Regions from separate parts of the Homo sapiens genome. Here region 1 is linked to region 2. Evidence: fine-mapped expression QTL. Tissue or cell type: whole blood. Region 2 holds a variant in brackets; the other region holds the start of a gene. All regions are shown on one strand. Distances are between the middles of the regions.

What was found. PIP is the estimated chance that this variant, and not a neighbour inherited with it, causes the effect.
Region 1: it holds the start of TRAF1, and the variant in region 2 is fine-mapped to the expression of TRAF1 in whole blood (TOPMed, PIP above 0.99).

Annotation. Positions count from the first base shown.
Region 1 is chr9:120,922,144-120,930,240 of GRCh38, forward strand. It overlaps TRAF1 (TNF receptor associated factor 1), which reads right to left and starts at 4,653. Exons shown (of 8, transcript NM_005658.5): 1 at 4,407-4,653; 2 at 3,793-4,158; 3 at 1,562-1,649. The coding sequence starts at 3,932. RefSeq lists enhancers at 3,282-3,805, 3,402-3,471, 3,932-4,271, 4,612-4,931 and a silencer at 6,592-7,181.
Region 2 is chr9:120,882,499-120,890,602 of GRCh38, forward strand. It overlaps a transcript of PHF19 not described here. Among named protein-coding and RNA genes, the nearest start is that of PHF19, 9.4 kb to the left of the region's middle. The variant G/A (reference allele first, on the strand shown) is at 4,827.

The DNA of each region.
Region 1 (8,097 bases), 40 kb after region 2:
AGCAACGAGACTCCTCTGCAGGTCTCAGGGCCCCGTGTGTAAACAAGAGGATTTGATTTTGAGCAGTGACTCCTGCCTGTTTGGATTCGTGGACCAATACGAGTGTGTTTTTTTTTAAATTGAGAGATTAACAAAGAGATTGTCATCTTTTTAATTTTACTTAGCAAAGGCTTTGCCAAAAACTATCATCTACGATTACATCCTTTCATTTATATAAAGACATGCATAGGACAGACGCAATCTCAGAGTAAAAGTTTGGTTTTATAAATGGAAAGAATTTAGTTTACATAAACTGATTTATAGAATTGCCTTATTTTTATCATTTTGTCATGAGCTGGTGGGAATGGATCAGTTCTGGATAGCATGTGGGAACCTCTGAGCAGGACATGTAACCTATGAGGGTCCTTCCAGCTTGGGAGGGCCAGGGTTCTAAATTGTAGCTCCTGAAAATGTCTCTCTGGCCTATCACACTTCCAAATGTGTCTCTTATTCCTAGAAGCACCGTTTGACAGAGCTCAGGACGTGAGCTGATAATGGTCTCTCCCCACCTAAAGGCAAACAGAGGCAGACAGAACCATCTAGATGAGGAGTTTGCTAACCTTTTTTATGTAAAGGGGTGGATAGTAAATATTTTGGGCTATGAAGTCTTTGTTGCAAGTACTCAATTTTATATAATTTTCATGTGTCCCAAAATATCTTTTTTTGTTTTTTTGAGACAGGGTCTCATTCTGCTACCCAGGCTGGAGTGTAGTGGCACGATCATGGTTCACTGCAGCCTCGACCTCCCCAGGCTCAGGCGACTCTCCTACCTCAGCCTCCAGACTAACTGGGACTACAGGCATGTGCCACCATGCCAGGTTAGTTTTTATATTTTTTGTAAACATGTGGTTTCATCATGTTGCCCAGGCTAGTATCAAACTCCTGGGCTCAAGCTCTCCGCCCACCTCGGCCTCCCAAAGTGTTAGAATTACAGGCATGTAATTCTATGTAATTTGAATTCTAACACTTCAGAATTACAGGCATGTTTGTCATTTACCAAGGGGTTTATATTTGTTATTATAAGAACTTTTTTGATTATTATTGATTGGGGCTCATAACAATTCTGTGATGCAGAAAACAGTTTTACAGACAAGCAAGCTGTGGCTTGAGAACATTAGCAGTGCAGCAGGCCACACAGTGAGAGAGTGGCCTCACAGCCTCGAGAATTACAGGTCATTATGCATGGCCTATCATTCTTCTGATTTTTTCAACCATTTGAAAATATAAAAACCACTCTTAGCTCGTTGCTTAGGTGGTGGGCCAGAATGTGGCCCATGAACCGTAGTTTGTGGACCCCTGGTCTGGACTGTTCTCACTCTAAGTCTATTGCCAGGTAGCTTTAGGCAAGACACTTCACCACTGTGAACATCAGTCTCCTTATTCCTTATAAAGCAAATTCAGTCTGGACTCAGGACTAGTTGGGAGGTGCCTGCCAGGGGTGGAGTGGGCAGCTGTCTACTTGGCTTCAACCTGGAAAAATCAAGACAACGGACAAATGCCTTTCTGTGATGTGCCAACGTACCTTCTCCTGAGTTCGAAGACGGCTTCCTGGGCTTATAGACTGGAGGTCTTCCCCTCTGCATTTGGGGCAGATCTGATCCTCGCCATTCCTGGGGAAACATGGACAAAGCCTTGGAGAGAGGCACTACAGCTCCCTGCACCATCCACTCTCCTGACAGCTCCAGAAGCCTCAACTATCAGCAGGGTGGTGATCATGTACGTCCACAATCCCAGAGCCACAGTTCCTAAATCGCAAAACTGCCGAGTATCCCACATTTTTTGGTAGTTTGCAGTGAGCTTCCTGGGCTGCCAAACCTGCCGTGACTGCACTGACCGGAAGCTATTATAGCCCTTACTTGCCCCACTTAGTGTGAATATATACATGTTTCATTGCAGAAACATTAATGTGCTTGATTACAGGGCACTGCCGCATTCCCTGCCACAATTACATGATGCCCTGATTTGCTTTTCTAAAAAAAATTCTGAATTACAAAACACATCTGATCTCAGGGGTTTAGGCAAAAGATTGCTGACATGTGACTATATTTGCTCTTCTCATTTGGTCCTCCATTTGGTTTTGGTCTTATATGTTTAGTAATTACAGAGGATCATGGCCTATTAGAACAAGAAAGGGCCTCAGAGAACATCTGTCCTAGAGGTTCTTAATCAGGAATGGGTGTCAGATTCTAATGGGTAACACCTGGGTACCCGTGGGTTTTTTGTCTGTTTTTTGGGGGTTTTTCTTTTTTTGAGACAGGGTCTTACTCTGTAGCCCAGGCTGGAGTGCAGTGGTGCGATCTCAGCTCACTGCAACCTCTGCCTCCCAGGTTCAAGTGATTCTCATGCCTTAGCCTCCCAAGTAGCTGGGATTACAGGTGCACACCACCACACCCAGCTAATTCTTGTATTTTTAGTAGAGATGAGGTTTCACCTTGTTGGCCAGGCTGGTCTCAAACTCCTGACCTCAAGTGATCCTCCTGCCTCGGCCTGCCAAAGTGCTGGGATTACAGGCATGAGCCACTGCGCCTGGCCAGCAACTGTGTTTTTACAAAGCTCCTGGTGTCTCTGACCTGCTACCGCTACCGAGATAGTCTATTTTACAAGTGAGGGAATGAGGCCCCAGAGGGCATGTGGATTGGTCAAGGTAGAGTGAGTCAGGAGCAGAGCTGAGTAGAAGCTCTTCAGGACTTAGGCCTCAGGCCTCAGCCCTCCAACTTCCAATCAGCTCCCTCCTCTGCCAGGTTTTGGAAGGAGGGAGAGGGGAAACCAGGAGACCCACTACCAGAGCCTGAGCTGAACCCTGACAATCCGCTTGATGGTAAAACCAGTGAACCTCTGCTCCTCCACCTCCTGGCTGGCCTTTCCACGGCCACAGCCTCTCCTCGCTATTCTCACAGCCTCCTCCTTTGTCGTCATGTTTGAACTTCTCACTTGCCTGATTCAGCTTTGCCACCTTCTTAAGCTGTAAAACCGCAAACAAAAGGTCATCACATGAGATAGTTTAAGGGCATATTTGCCAGGAAACTGACCAAAGCTGACCTAATCTGTTAGGCCTCAGTGTTCTCATTTGTAAAATAGGATCATAATAGTATCCACCCCTCTAAGTTGTGCTGAGGACCCAAGGGCAGAGCATTTGGCACACAGTAGGTGCATAATTGCTTAAAGAGGGATGTCCACAATAGTACTGATATCATGCCTTTCTGGGTTGTTAATATTTTAAGTATCATTAAATACACAAATATATATCGATCTCTTTGTCCCCTCCAAAAGGGTTCCCAGCAAACGGTCTGAGGTGATGAGCAATGCTGTGGAAGGAGAGATATTCGTCTAACAGTTTGTCATTCACCAAGAGGTTTATATTTGTTATTATAAGGACTTTTGTGATTATTATTCATTGGGCTTCATTAACAATTCTATGACACAGAAAACAGCTTTACAGACAAGCGAGCTGCGGCTTAGGGACATTAGCAGAGCACCAGACCACACAGTGAGACAGTGGCCTCACAGCCTCGAGGCTCTCCTCGGTGTGGATGGCTTTCCCCTGTGGGAGCTGATGCCTTTCTGTGGCTTCCTCTCCTTCCACCACAGCCAGAGGGGCAGTGTCAGGGAGTGTGAGAAAAGGGTGTGGAAACTGAGGCCCAGAGAAGAAAAGTCACCGCCTGAAGTCACAGGCTCCTCTGCCCCTCACCTCCCATCAGGGGTCCCTCCCTGGCACCCACTTTCTGCCCACCCTCCGCTCCTCCATCACCTCACCTCGGGTTCTCAGAGAGACAGCCTGCACAGCAGAGAGCCCTGGGCTCCTTTGGGTCCTGGCAGACGGTGGGAGGGCACCCAAAGGGAAACTCATTCTCATCAGGGGCCGGGCGAGGACTGCTGCCTGAGCTGGAGGCCATCTCAGGGTTCCAGGCTGGCCAGAGGGCCTGTTTAAGTTGCTCCAGGGCAGGGGACCAGCCTTGTGGAGTCCTGGCCTGGGCCTCACTCTCTGGTGAGTAGGAGCTCTGATGACTTTATCTTCTTCTCTCTGGCTTGTGTGGTTCAACGTCACAGCTGAGTCACAGCAGGGATGGAGCAGGAATTACCCTTTGTGGCGATAAAAATCCCCTGGATGGTGACTGAAGGCTTTAGGAGTGTCCAGTCATTTTTTTTTTTTTTTAGAGTGAGAAAAAGCAAGAGAGCAAGTCAGAGAAAATGACCCGTGTCACAGACTCTCAGAAAGCACAGTGAGAGTTCCCCTGGTTGAGAATCGCAGGCTGCCGCTGGCTTCCCCCACTTCCCTGGGCACATCGGAGGAGGGGGCCACAGCTGGTCCCTGGTCTGTGTTCCCTGGCACCTCTGAGCAGCCTGGAATTCTCAGTGGGGGTGCTCACCTTCCTGGTGGAAATCCCCAGGGTGTTGGAGACAGGTCCAAAATTTCAAGTTCTAGGCGCTTTTGCTCTGCTCTGTTTGGAGTGTCTGGGTGACCTCAAGGAGAAGTCACTTCCTCACAGTGGGTTCTGATGACTCCATCTGTAAAAAAGAAGTTGCAACAGGTGGCCTCTGGGCTGTAAGATTCTGGGACCCTATCTTGCCTGGGACTGAGGCAACCAGAAGGAGCAGGAAAGCCCTGATGAAATCCAAGGCCTAGGACCACAGACTCCTCAGGGCCCTCCCCACACCACCCCACTCAGGAAGTCATAGGTGGCTACATGCTCCGGTCAGGTGCCACCACTTTACTGCCTCAAGGAGAACAAAGCGCTAAACAAATGCAAGATCACAGCAGCTGGTCTCAGCATCCAAGTGGGATGTAGATCCACATTTGCAGGAAAAGTGCACTGGGGAAACGATGGCTCCCAGAATGTGTACTGTGTGCTGGGCAACAGTTTCCCTCCAAATCCTTACAGCAACCTGCAAGGAATTCTTCTGCAGCTGTATATAGGGTCAGAGAAGCAAGATGCCTGGTCCAAAGGCACACAGCCTCTGGTAGTGGAGTGGGATTCACACCAGGGCTGTGGGGCCCCAAGCTCTGTGTGCTTGGGATGGAGATCAGAGTACCCAGCTCTTGTCTCATCTATCAAATGGAGAAGACAATCCCTACACATCTTTCCATCCTGCTTGGCTGCTACAGAGGTTTTGCAAACTTTCACAGTGGTTTCAGATCATGGGTTTTGAGGTCAGACAGAGCTGAGTTGAAATCCTGGGTCCACTGCTTACTAACTGTGGGCCCTGGGACAAAGTCCTTAACTTCCCTGAAACTCAGATTCTGCATCTGTAAAATGGGACAATAATACCTATTTCACCCATTTGTTGTGATGACTAAATGAGATAGTGGGTCAAAGTGTGGTGTGTAACCCAAGTGAAGTACTTGAATGACATTTGGCTCAGATGGTGACTACAGGCCTTCCAGCTCCTCAGAGAAAAGGATTAAAGTGGTGCATTATGCTTATACTGTGCTTTCACGTCTATCTACTGGAGCCTCAACAGGTGGGCAGGGCAGGTCATCTGGCCTGAGATACATTAAACTGCCCACCTGCCCTGGTGTAACACCAGGGCTGCCACAGGCTGGTGGCAAAGACAGCACGGCATCTTACCGCCACAATGTACATCAGGACCTCCACCCCCATAACAAACGACCTCCAGGCCTGCATCAAGACTATCAGAAGACACTCCCTTTTAACTGTGTACCCCATACCTGCAAGCTTTCCTGCAGCCAGCCCTACCTGTTCCCTCCTTCCCCTGGTTTGGGATAAAACAGGCACCCAAGACTTCTCTCCCCATCTGTGGGTCCCTTCTCTCCCCTCCGGCCTCAATACCACCCTCTCTACCTGCTCATTCCCACGGACATCAAAACGTGCGCAACCTGCTCTAATAAGAAAAGGGAAAAATAGTACTACTTTTGGGTACCGTCTTACGTAATTTTACAGACATCATCTCATCTAATTTTCACTCTGTGAAGCAGGTATTGCCATCATCATCCCCACCTTACAGATGAGAAAACTGAGGCACAGAGAGGCTAAGCGACTTGTTCAAGGTCTCACAGCTAGTGAGTGGGGACCCCTGAACCCAGAGCCAGTCCTGTAACCACGCACGCTTTTAAAACACTCTTTATTCTCGTCTCCAATTTCTACATCTACTCTCGCCTCACCTAACGGTAGAACTTCTAGAAAAGATTGTCTATACAGGCACTTGGATCTCCAGGGAATCATCTCTCCAAGTGTATACGCATGTCGGGGACGCCAAATGCCCTGGGCCCGCCCCAGTTTCTATCCAACCAGCCCTCCTGCCAGCACCTGACCCGGCTCTCAGCCCTTCCTTCCGGAATCCCTTCCTTTCCCCGGCTTCCCGCATCCTCTGCGGGGAATTCCCCCCGCGTCTCTGGTGGCTCCTTATCCGTCTCCTTGACCCCTTTCTCTTCTACACTGGGCCTCCATCGGCTCCATCCACGAGGAGTCTCTCTGCGCCGCGTGTCCCCATCTCCCACTCGTCCTTTGGGGCGCCCCTGCACCAGACCCCACTCCCACGGGAAGTCTCCGTGGGCCGCCCCATGATGAGGCTGGGCGCCCCGCTCTGTGATTCCTCGCGCCTGCCGGCGCCAGCACAGCCCCCGCCGCCCGGCTCTGCAGGCTGAGCCCCCAGCCAGGTCGGTGAGCCCGCCCGAGGGCGGGGGAGTGTCGCGTCGCCACCTCCACATATCCAGTTGCGAGGGCAGCGCTGGGAGCCAGGCAGCGCCGGTGCCCGCGGAAAGAGGAATGAGCCCCTGCGGGGCCGGGGCGCCCGCGGCTGGGCTGGGGGCAGTTGAGTCCGGGGCGGTCTCTGCAGCCGAGGTGCCAGGTCCCCGGCTGCACCCGAGGAGTCCCCGCCTCAGCAAGCGGGAGCTGGAGCGGGGAGTTCGGGGCGAGGAAGGGGGCCGGGGAGCCGCCCTGCGGTCCCGGGGCAGGGGTGTAGGGCAGCCAACCTCGGCGCCGCCTCCGCCACCGCCTACCGGCGGCCAGGCCCGGAGCTTCCGGTGGAGTGTGAAGGACGCAGCCGCACCGGCGGAAACCGGCAAGGCAGGGCCGGGGCCCGGGGCTGCTGCTCCCCAGACCGCCGCGGGGCGGGGCGAGCGATCCCTGTGAGGGGAAACTGAGTCTGAGGGCCGGGTCTGCGGCGCCACGGGCACTGTGCGCCCAGTTAACTGACACGCGTGTACGCAGCTCCTCCGCTTGCGGGGCTCCTGGCATCTGGTGCAGCACCTGCGCGTGTTTAGTGCTCAGTAAGATGCCCCCTGAAAAAACAAACACAAACCGGGAATTGGAGCCCCCACCCTGGTCCCCTGCCTGCCCAAAATCCGAGTAGTGAGAAGGTGAAGAGGAGTAAAACCGCAGTCTTACCTTTCTTGGATTTCTCCAGAAGATCCTAGCACAGTGCCAGGCTCGCCCAAGCTTATTGGGTTGGAGCAATCAAGTGATAGTACTTGATAGTACTTGATCAAAATGATAGTACTAAGTGGTTCAAGGCACTGTGCTTTTACAAACTGGATATTTTAAGGAACCGTTTCTGTTTTCGTCTAAACACACACACACACGGTCGCTAAATCCTTAAGAATATATTAATCAAAATAGTTATGGAACTTAGTGTTGGGGTAGAATTTTAGATTAAAAGCTACACCTTTATTTTTGCGAACTACCAATTTGACAAGGGCTCCTTCTCTGTCAGATGTCTTAACCTTGTAGGACTGATGGTGGAGGGAGGGATGAAGCTGCCCACCTTGTTGGTTTGGTTTTAACAGCTCAAAATCTCTTTATGTGTTAGGGTCTTTTTTTTTTTGAGATGGAGTTTGGCTCTTGTCACCCAGGCTGGAGTGCAATGGCCCAATCGCGGCTCACTGCAACCTCTGCCTCCCGGGTTCAAGTGATTCTCCTGTTTCAGCCTCCTGAGTAGCTGGGCCCACCACCACGCCCACGACCACGCCTGGCTAATTTTTGTATTTTTAGTAGAGACGGGGGTCTCACCACGTTGGCTAGGCTGATCTCGATCTCCTGACTTCAGGTGATCCTCCCACCTCGGCCTCCCAAAGTGCTGGGATTACAGGCATGAGCCACC
Region 2 (8,104 bases):
TTTTCTTTCAGAAATACTTATTTGAATACCAAACAAGTTAGCCTATATGAAAGTGCTCTACAGCCAGGCACAGTGGCTCATGCCTGTAATCCCAGCACTTTGAGAGGCTGAGGTGGGCGGATCACCTGAGGTCCGGAGTTCAAGACCAGCCTGGCCAACATGATGAAACCCCATCTTTACTAAAAATACAAAAATTAGTCGTGCATGGTGGCGGCCACCTGTAATCCCAGCTACTTGGGAGGCTGAGGCAGGAGAATCTCTTGAGCCCAGAAGGCGTAGGTTGCAGTGAGCCGATATTGTGCCATTGCACTCCAGCCTGGGTGACAAGAGCAAAACTCCATCTCAAAAAAAAAAAAAAAAAGAAAGAAACTGCTCTACACACAAGAGGCTTTTCACAAATATGAATAATTATTATTACATAATTTTTGGAAGTAATTATTATGCAGGTGACCAGTTAGACGAGCCCATGTTTTATGGCCTGAATTTCGGGGTTGGTTTATCATGTCCTCAGCATGGAGGTGTAGAGAGTTTTCAGATTACAGTAGAAAGCACGGTTATTAACACCAGTTTTAAAAAAAATGGTTGCCAGGGTCAGACTGTGACCTGTTGGCATGCCTGTGGCCTTGGTTAGCTGCCAAACTATAAACACCTTTACCTGTGGCTTTTGTGGGGAAATGAGAGAAGTCTGCCTGCCTTCTCTGTGAACCCAGGGGGTGTAGAAAAGAAAGGGGAGCCTTCACCAGACACTGGAGATCCTATTTCCCTGCCTTGCCAGCTTGCTGTGGAACCAAGGATCCCTTCCCTTGTCTAAATTTTAGTCTCCCCATCTGTTAAAGATAAAGTGGTGGTTTGTTCACCCTTTCAACATAGTGCACATGTGTAGCGAACCATGCTGTAGGCAGGCACCATGCTAGGAATGACAGGCGTGGCATGAAGATGAATAAGATGCAGCCTTTGATCTCAGGAAGCTCCCGGTCCAGCCGGGCACGGTGGCTCATGCCTGAAATCCCAGCACTTTGGGAGGCTGAGGTGGGTGAATTGCCTGAGCTCCGGAGTTCGAGCCCAGCCTGGGCAACTTGGTGAAATCCCATCTCTACCAAAAATACAAAGAATTAGCTGGGCATGGTGGCATGCACCTGTGGTCCTAGCTACTTGGGAGCCTGAGGTGGGAGGATCACTTGAGCCTGGAGGCAGAGGTTGCAGTGAGCTGAGATCACACCGTGCACTCCAGCAGCCTGGGTGACAGAACAAGACACTGTCTCCAAAAAAAAAAAAAAAAAAAATAGAAGCTCCTGGTCCAGAGCTAGGGGGTGGGGCTAGGGGGACAGACAGATTGATAGATAATTGTGGGAGGGTGTCGAGACAAGGAGTGATCAGGACAAGGAGGGTCAGACCACAATGACCTCTAAGTTGCCTCTGATGGCAAAATTATTTGATTCTATGAACTCAGTCTAAGCTTTGTTTCTCCCTCACTCGGTAACCTAGGATGGGTCACTTCTCTAATCAGGGCTTCAGATGGACTCACTGGTCAATATATGAAGTCTAGAACAAATGAGTTGCTCCCAGTCATTCTTTATAAAGGTTGTTATATAAAGATTTGACCCACCAAAAGCTGCATTGACTATTTGCGAGATATTTTGTCTTCTTGTTTTTTATCAATTAGGTCTACATACTACATTCAATTAGAGATTTTGATTGATATGATTAAAACAGTGTGATCATAAAAGACTGACTCAGATATAGTTAATTAAAGATACCTTTAAAGTTTTCCCCACGTTAAAATACAGAGGTGTCATTTTATTAATGAACTCCAGTATTTACAAGGCATCCTTTCTGGAATCAAGCAATCCATGAGTCGATCCGCGTGAGGTGGATGAGCTCCTGGCCCCAAGCTGGGTGTGTAGGAGAAAGAGGAAATGTATGAGATGAGAGCTGCTCCCCGGGAGCCAAGGCTCTTGCTGGGCATTTCATGAAGGAGACAAGATATAACCAACTGCCCAAGATATAGCCAGAGGAGAGCAAATAAGAAGATAGTGGATACAACAGGGTCATTTGTATGATTCAACTAGTATTGGTGGAACTGAGGTTTGAACCCAGGTGATATGGTGTATTCAAAAGCTAATGCCAGTCTGGGCACGGTGGCTCACACCTGTAATGCCAGCACTTTGGGAGGCTGAGGTGGGCGGATCACCAGAGGCCAGGAGTTTGAGACCAGCCTGGCCAACATGGTGAAACCAGATCTCTACCAAAAAATACAAAAAAAAAAAAAAAAATTAGCTGGATGTGGTGGTACACGCCTATGATCCCAGCTACTCCAGAGGCCGAGGCATGAGAATCACTTCAACCCTGGAGGCAGAAGTTGCAGTGAGTTCAGATAGCACCACTGCACTCTGGCCTAGGAGCGAGACTCTGTCTAAAAAAATAAAAATAAAAATTAAAAAAAGCCAATACCAGCCACTCATGTAAATCCCAACTACTTAGGAGGTTGAGGTGGGAGAATCATTTGAGGCCAGGAGTTCAAGACCAGCCTGGGCAACATAGCAAGACCACATCTCTAAAAATAAAAATAAATTAGCTGGGGTGGTGACATGCACCTGCAGCGCCAACTACTCAGGAGGCTGAAGTAGGAGGATTGCTTGAACCCAGAAGTTCGAGGATGCAGTAAGCTATGATTACATCACTGCACTCCAGTCTGAGCAACAGAGTGAGACCCTGTGTCTTAATGGAGGGAACCTTCCAAGTCAAGTTTTCCAACTTCTCATTTTCAGATGGGGAAACGGATATCTAGAAAGCAGGAGAGGTTCGGCGCAGTGGTTCACGCCTGTAATCCTAGCACTTTGGGAGGCCGAGGCGGGCAGATCATGAGGTCAAAAGTTTGAGACCAGCCTGGCCAACATGGTGAAACCTCGTCTCTACTAAAAGTACAAAAATGAGCTGGGCATGGTGATGTGCGCCTGTAATCCCAGCTACTGGGAATGCTGAGGCAGGAGAATGGCTTGAACCCAGGAGGCGGAGGTTGCAGTGAGCCGATATCATGCCACTGCACTCCAGCCTGGGTGACAGAGCAAGACTCTATCTTGGAAAAAAAAAAAAAAAAACAAAGCAGGAGAGGTCTGGCCAAAGTCCTGCAGGAAAGACGCATTCAAGATGAAGTAGTAAATCAGCACATGAGCCATAAGTGGGTCCAGGCCTCTGCCCCTCCCTTGCCCAGAGATGTATGCCATGCCACTTTTGTCAGGTCCCCAGCAGTCCTCTTGAGTTTTTTAATTGCCAAAATTTATTTTAAAATCCTTCTGTTTGAGTGTTCCATGACATGTGACCTTCTTATGAGTTTCAGAGGTAATCCCTGCCTGGGTGGAGGAATACCTAAGTGACCTTCAGGACCTCTTTCAGCTTGGAGAAGCGGAAATTCTGTTGCCAGAATTCCATGGCTCTTTAAAGCTAATCTTCACTCTTTTACAGCTCTCAGAAGGAACTCTCACGTCTGGCCTTTCTCTGTTGTCTGTTCTGCTCCCTGATCTTCGGCTTAAGTTGGGGCAATAGTTCCAAGAGGTTTAGCTGGGACCATTCAGATCTGTGTCTTATAGCTGCTTCTTCCAAGATTACAATTCAAAGTCCCAGATGCCTCCCCCTGCAGAGGAGAGGAAACATCTGGGCTGGAGCTGCACGGAGAGAGCCCAGCTGTGTGGGACATCCCTCAGGGTAGGAGCCTGTGAGCTGAGAGCTCTTCATTGCAGATGTGGTTCTAACCATCGGGGTCTGGGTCTCACCCATGAGGCTTCGACAGGCCCCAGGCATGTGTGTGCAGGGAATCTGAACAGTCAGCCTGCAGGAAAGAGGCTCTGGGGAGTTATATGTGGCTGGTGTGGTGGCAAGTAGAGTTTGTATGGACACCGAACCAAAATAGAGAAATGCGAAGGCAGCTAGACAGAAAGTGGGTGGGGGGAAGCATTCCAAGGAACAGACCTCTGCAGCAAGGAGCTTGGTCTGTGCAGGTCACAGGGAAAGCAAAGAAAAACATAGGCTCAAACCACGAGTCATTTATTCACTCATCCTTCACGGCTAACCACAGCATTTAGCCATGCACTCCTGGTGTGACTATGGAGATCCCTTCCACAGCCAGATGACCCAATGTCAGCTGGAGTGTTTCCCACTCCAACGGCTGGTTCATCCAGCCTGTAGTCACCGCCCTCTGGCAGAGGCACCACTCTGGGCTGACCCCTCTGTGATGGTCAATTTTATATGTCCACATGACTAAGCTATCATACCTAGTTATTTAATCCAACATCAATCTAGGTGTCGCTGTCAAGGCATCTTAGAGATGTGGTTAACATTTATCATCAGTTGACTTTAAGAAAAATTCCCTCGAGACCAGCCTGGCCAGTATGGTGAAACCCTGTCTCTACTAAAAATACAAAAAAATTAGCCGGGTGTGATTGCACACACCTATACAGCTACCCGGGAGGCTGAGGCAGGAGAATTGCTTGAACCTGGGAGATGGAGGTTGCAATGAGGCGAGATCGCCCCACTGCACTCCAGCCTAGGTGACAGAGCCAGACTCTGTCTAAAAAAAAAAAAAGAAAAGAAAAGAAAAGAAAAAAGAAAATTACCCTCGATAGAGTGAGTAGGCCACAGCCAATCAGTGGAAGGCCTTAAGAGTAAAAACAGGTTTCTGGCTGGGTGCGGTGGCTCACATCTATAATCCCAGCTCTTTGGGAGGCCAAGGTGGGCGGATCACCTGAGGTCAGGATTTCAAGACCAGCCTGGCCAACATGGTGAAATCCTGTCTCTACTAAAAATGCAAAATTAGCCAGTCGTGGTGGCGC[G/A]TGCCTGTAATCCCAGCTACTTGCGAGGCTGAGGCAGGAGAATCGCTTGAACCTGGGAGGCGGAGGTTGCAGTGAGCCGAGATCACGCCATTGCACTCCAGCCTGGGCAACAGAGTGAAACTCCATCTCAAAAACAAAAACAAAAACTGAGGTTTCCTGGAGAAAAGATTCTGTCTGAAGACTCAAGCATCAATTCCTGCTGAGTCGCCAGCCTGCTGGCCTGCCCTATAGATTTTGGACTTGCCAGCTCCCACAATCATGCAAATTAATTTCTTAAATACATCTGTTTATGAACAAACACACACACACACACACACACACACACACAGACACACACACACACACACACACAGATGGTCCCTGAATGATGATGGTATGCCTTATGATTTTTTGGCTTTACGATGGTGCAAAAGCTATATGCATTCAGTAGAAATCATACTATGATATTTGGTAGGTTAGGTATATTAAATGCATCTTCCACTTACGGTATTGGAGAAGCCCCATCGTAAGTGGACAAGCATCTGTATACATACCTAGTGTATCTCCCATTGGTTCTGCTTCTCCAGGGACTGACCGACCCACCTTCCTTCACAGTCCTTGAGAACGGAGCTCGTCCCCTGAGCACCTAATGACACGCGTGCACGTCTCTTGATTCCTTGTCCTCTTGCAAGTCCCCACACGTCTGTCGCCCAGACTGGAGTGCAGTCGCACGATCTCAGCTCACTGCAACCTCTGCCTCCCAGGTTCAAGCGATTCTCCTGCCTCAGCCTCCCAAGTAGCTGGGACTACAGGCATGCGCCACCACTCCTGGATAATTTTTGTATTTTTTTAGTAGAGAGGGGGGTTTCACCATGTTGGTCAGGCTGGTCTTGAACTCCTGACCTCAAATGATCTGCCCATCTCGGCCTCCCAAAGTGCTGGGATTACAGGTTTGAGCCACCGCGCCTGGCCCAGCCTCCTTCTTCACACTCATGACCCTTAAAAGGCTAGAAGCTCCCAGATGGGAATGGAATTGCAGGGAGAACAAGCTTGGTGGCAGCTCGAAGAGCTGAGAGGTGTGGAACCCAGCACTGAGCCGTGAACTTATGTCTGCCTTTCAGGATGCAGGCAGCAACCTGGACAACTGGGTCTATCTGCTGTGATAATTCTCAGGCCTTGGCAAGAGAGGCTATGCCAATATTTTCATGGCACCCAAAAATGGTTTTCCTGGGAAGAAACTCCTTGGTCAGTGTCCACAGCACCAGGGGAGGTGGCTATTTCCTGCCATCTCTGTAAACAGGATGGAGACCAAGGGCCTTGTATCAGTTGGAATTCTTGATTATGAGCAACCAGGACCAACTCTGTCCATCCAAAGCAAAAGGGGGACTTTCTGGAGGGTACTGAAGGTACACAGAATGAACAAGAGGCTGGAGAACAGGCTTGGACAAAGGGCAGGACCAAGAGAGGAATTCTGGCCAAGGGAAGGCTGCAGGCACAGTCTGATCCAGGGTTCTCTACTGTGGGTGAGTGATCTCCAAGGGTCCCCTCACCACTCACTCAAGAGTCAGCCCCAAGAATGATTATCTGATTGGCTAGTGTTGCATTTTCCATGTGCCTGTCCACTAGCCAGGCAGGATAAGATGCCATGGAAGGATTTAGCTCCACTAGGATTTCACAGTGATGGTGGCCTTGGGAGGTGGGTGCTAGTTTTATCCTTCCTCAAAATGGGGAGCTCCTCCAAAAAGGAACCAGAATTTTAAGGTGGGGGTGGATGCTGGACAGATCATAAGTGACAGCTAAACCTCTTGGAGCTATTGCCCACCTTAGGCCAATAACAGATGAGGCCAGGCGCGATGGCACACGCTTGTAATCCCAGCACTTTAGGAGGCTGAGGCGGGCGGATCACGAGGTCAGGAGTTTGAGACCAGCCTTGCCAACATGGTGAAATCTCGTCTCCATTAAAAATACAAAAATTAGCTGGGCATGGTGGCAGGCGCCTGTAGTCCCTGCTACTCGGGAAGCTGAGGCAGAAGAATCACTTGAACCTGGGAGGCGGAGGTTGCAGTGAGCTGAGATCATGCCATTGTACTCTGGCCTGGGCGACAGAGCAAGTCTCCATCTCAAAAAAAAAAAAAAAAAAGGACCAAGGTAGCCTGGGCGCAGTGACTCATGCCTGTAATTCCAGCACAGGAATTGGGAAGCCGAGGTAGGAAGATCCTTTGAGCCTGGGAGTTCAAGGCCAGCCTGGGCCACATGGCGAAACCCTGCCTCTACGAAAAATTAAAAAATTAGCCTGGTGTGGTGGCAGGCGCCTGTAGTCCCAGCTACTCAGGAGGCTGAGTTGGGAGGATCAATTGAGCCTGGGAGGTTGAGGCTGCCTTCAGTGAGCCATGATTGTGCCACTGCACTCTGGCCTGGGTGACAGAGCAAGACCCTGTCTTGAAAAAAAGAAAGAGAGAGAGAGAGAAAGAAAGAAAAGAGAAAGAAGAAAGGAAGAAAGAAAGAAAGAGAAAGAAAAAAGAGAAAAAGAAAAAGAAAGAACTAACAAGAAAGAAAGAGAGGAAGGAAGGAAAGAGTGGACAGGCTCTAGGATCTGGACTGGACTTGGACTTAGAATCTGGACTTGGACAACCTAAGGTCAGGTTCTGCCATGTATTAAGCAATGTGGATAATAATGGCACCCACAGCTCACAAAATTGCATGTGAAAACACTTTGTAAACTATAAAGTATTTTGAGCCCTGGAGGGCAGTGGGATGGGACCATCATGCCTCAGGCAGCTTCTCATCTCAGTGCCCAGTTCAAGACCTGGCACCCAGTAAATGTCCCATAAGTGTTTGCTGAGTGAATAGATAAACAAGTGATTATCATCATCCTTTTAACTTGATCTCAGCTTTGCAGAATAAAAACAGGCAGATGCTGTTGGACCCTGATTCAGGTTTTGTGAGCTGAGGCCTCACAAATGAGCCTGCTTTTTTTTTTTTTTTTTTTTTTCCTGTTAACGCTTTTGACGTTTTCATTTTAATATGTGAAACCTGGCTACTTGTCTCAGGGAGAGTTTATGGAAAAAAAGCTTCCAGCTGGCTTTGGGCAGCCCATAAAAATGTACTGAAATGTCTAACTTTGACCAGTTAGAAATTAGGAGCTGTTGGGGGATGCAGGCCGGTGACGCCACTCGCCCTGGTGAGGCCACTGAATTTCAGTAATTAGCTCTCTGGGCAGGAGGACTCGCTCCTAATTCCTTCCTGGTTCCGAGTCAAAGGATGAGGCCCTGAATCTGTTAAAGAGAAACCACAGCTTT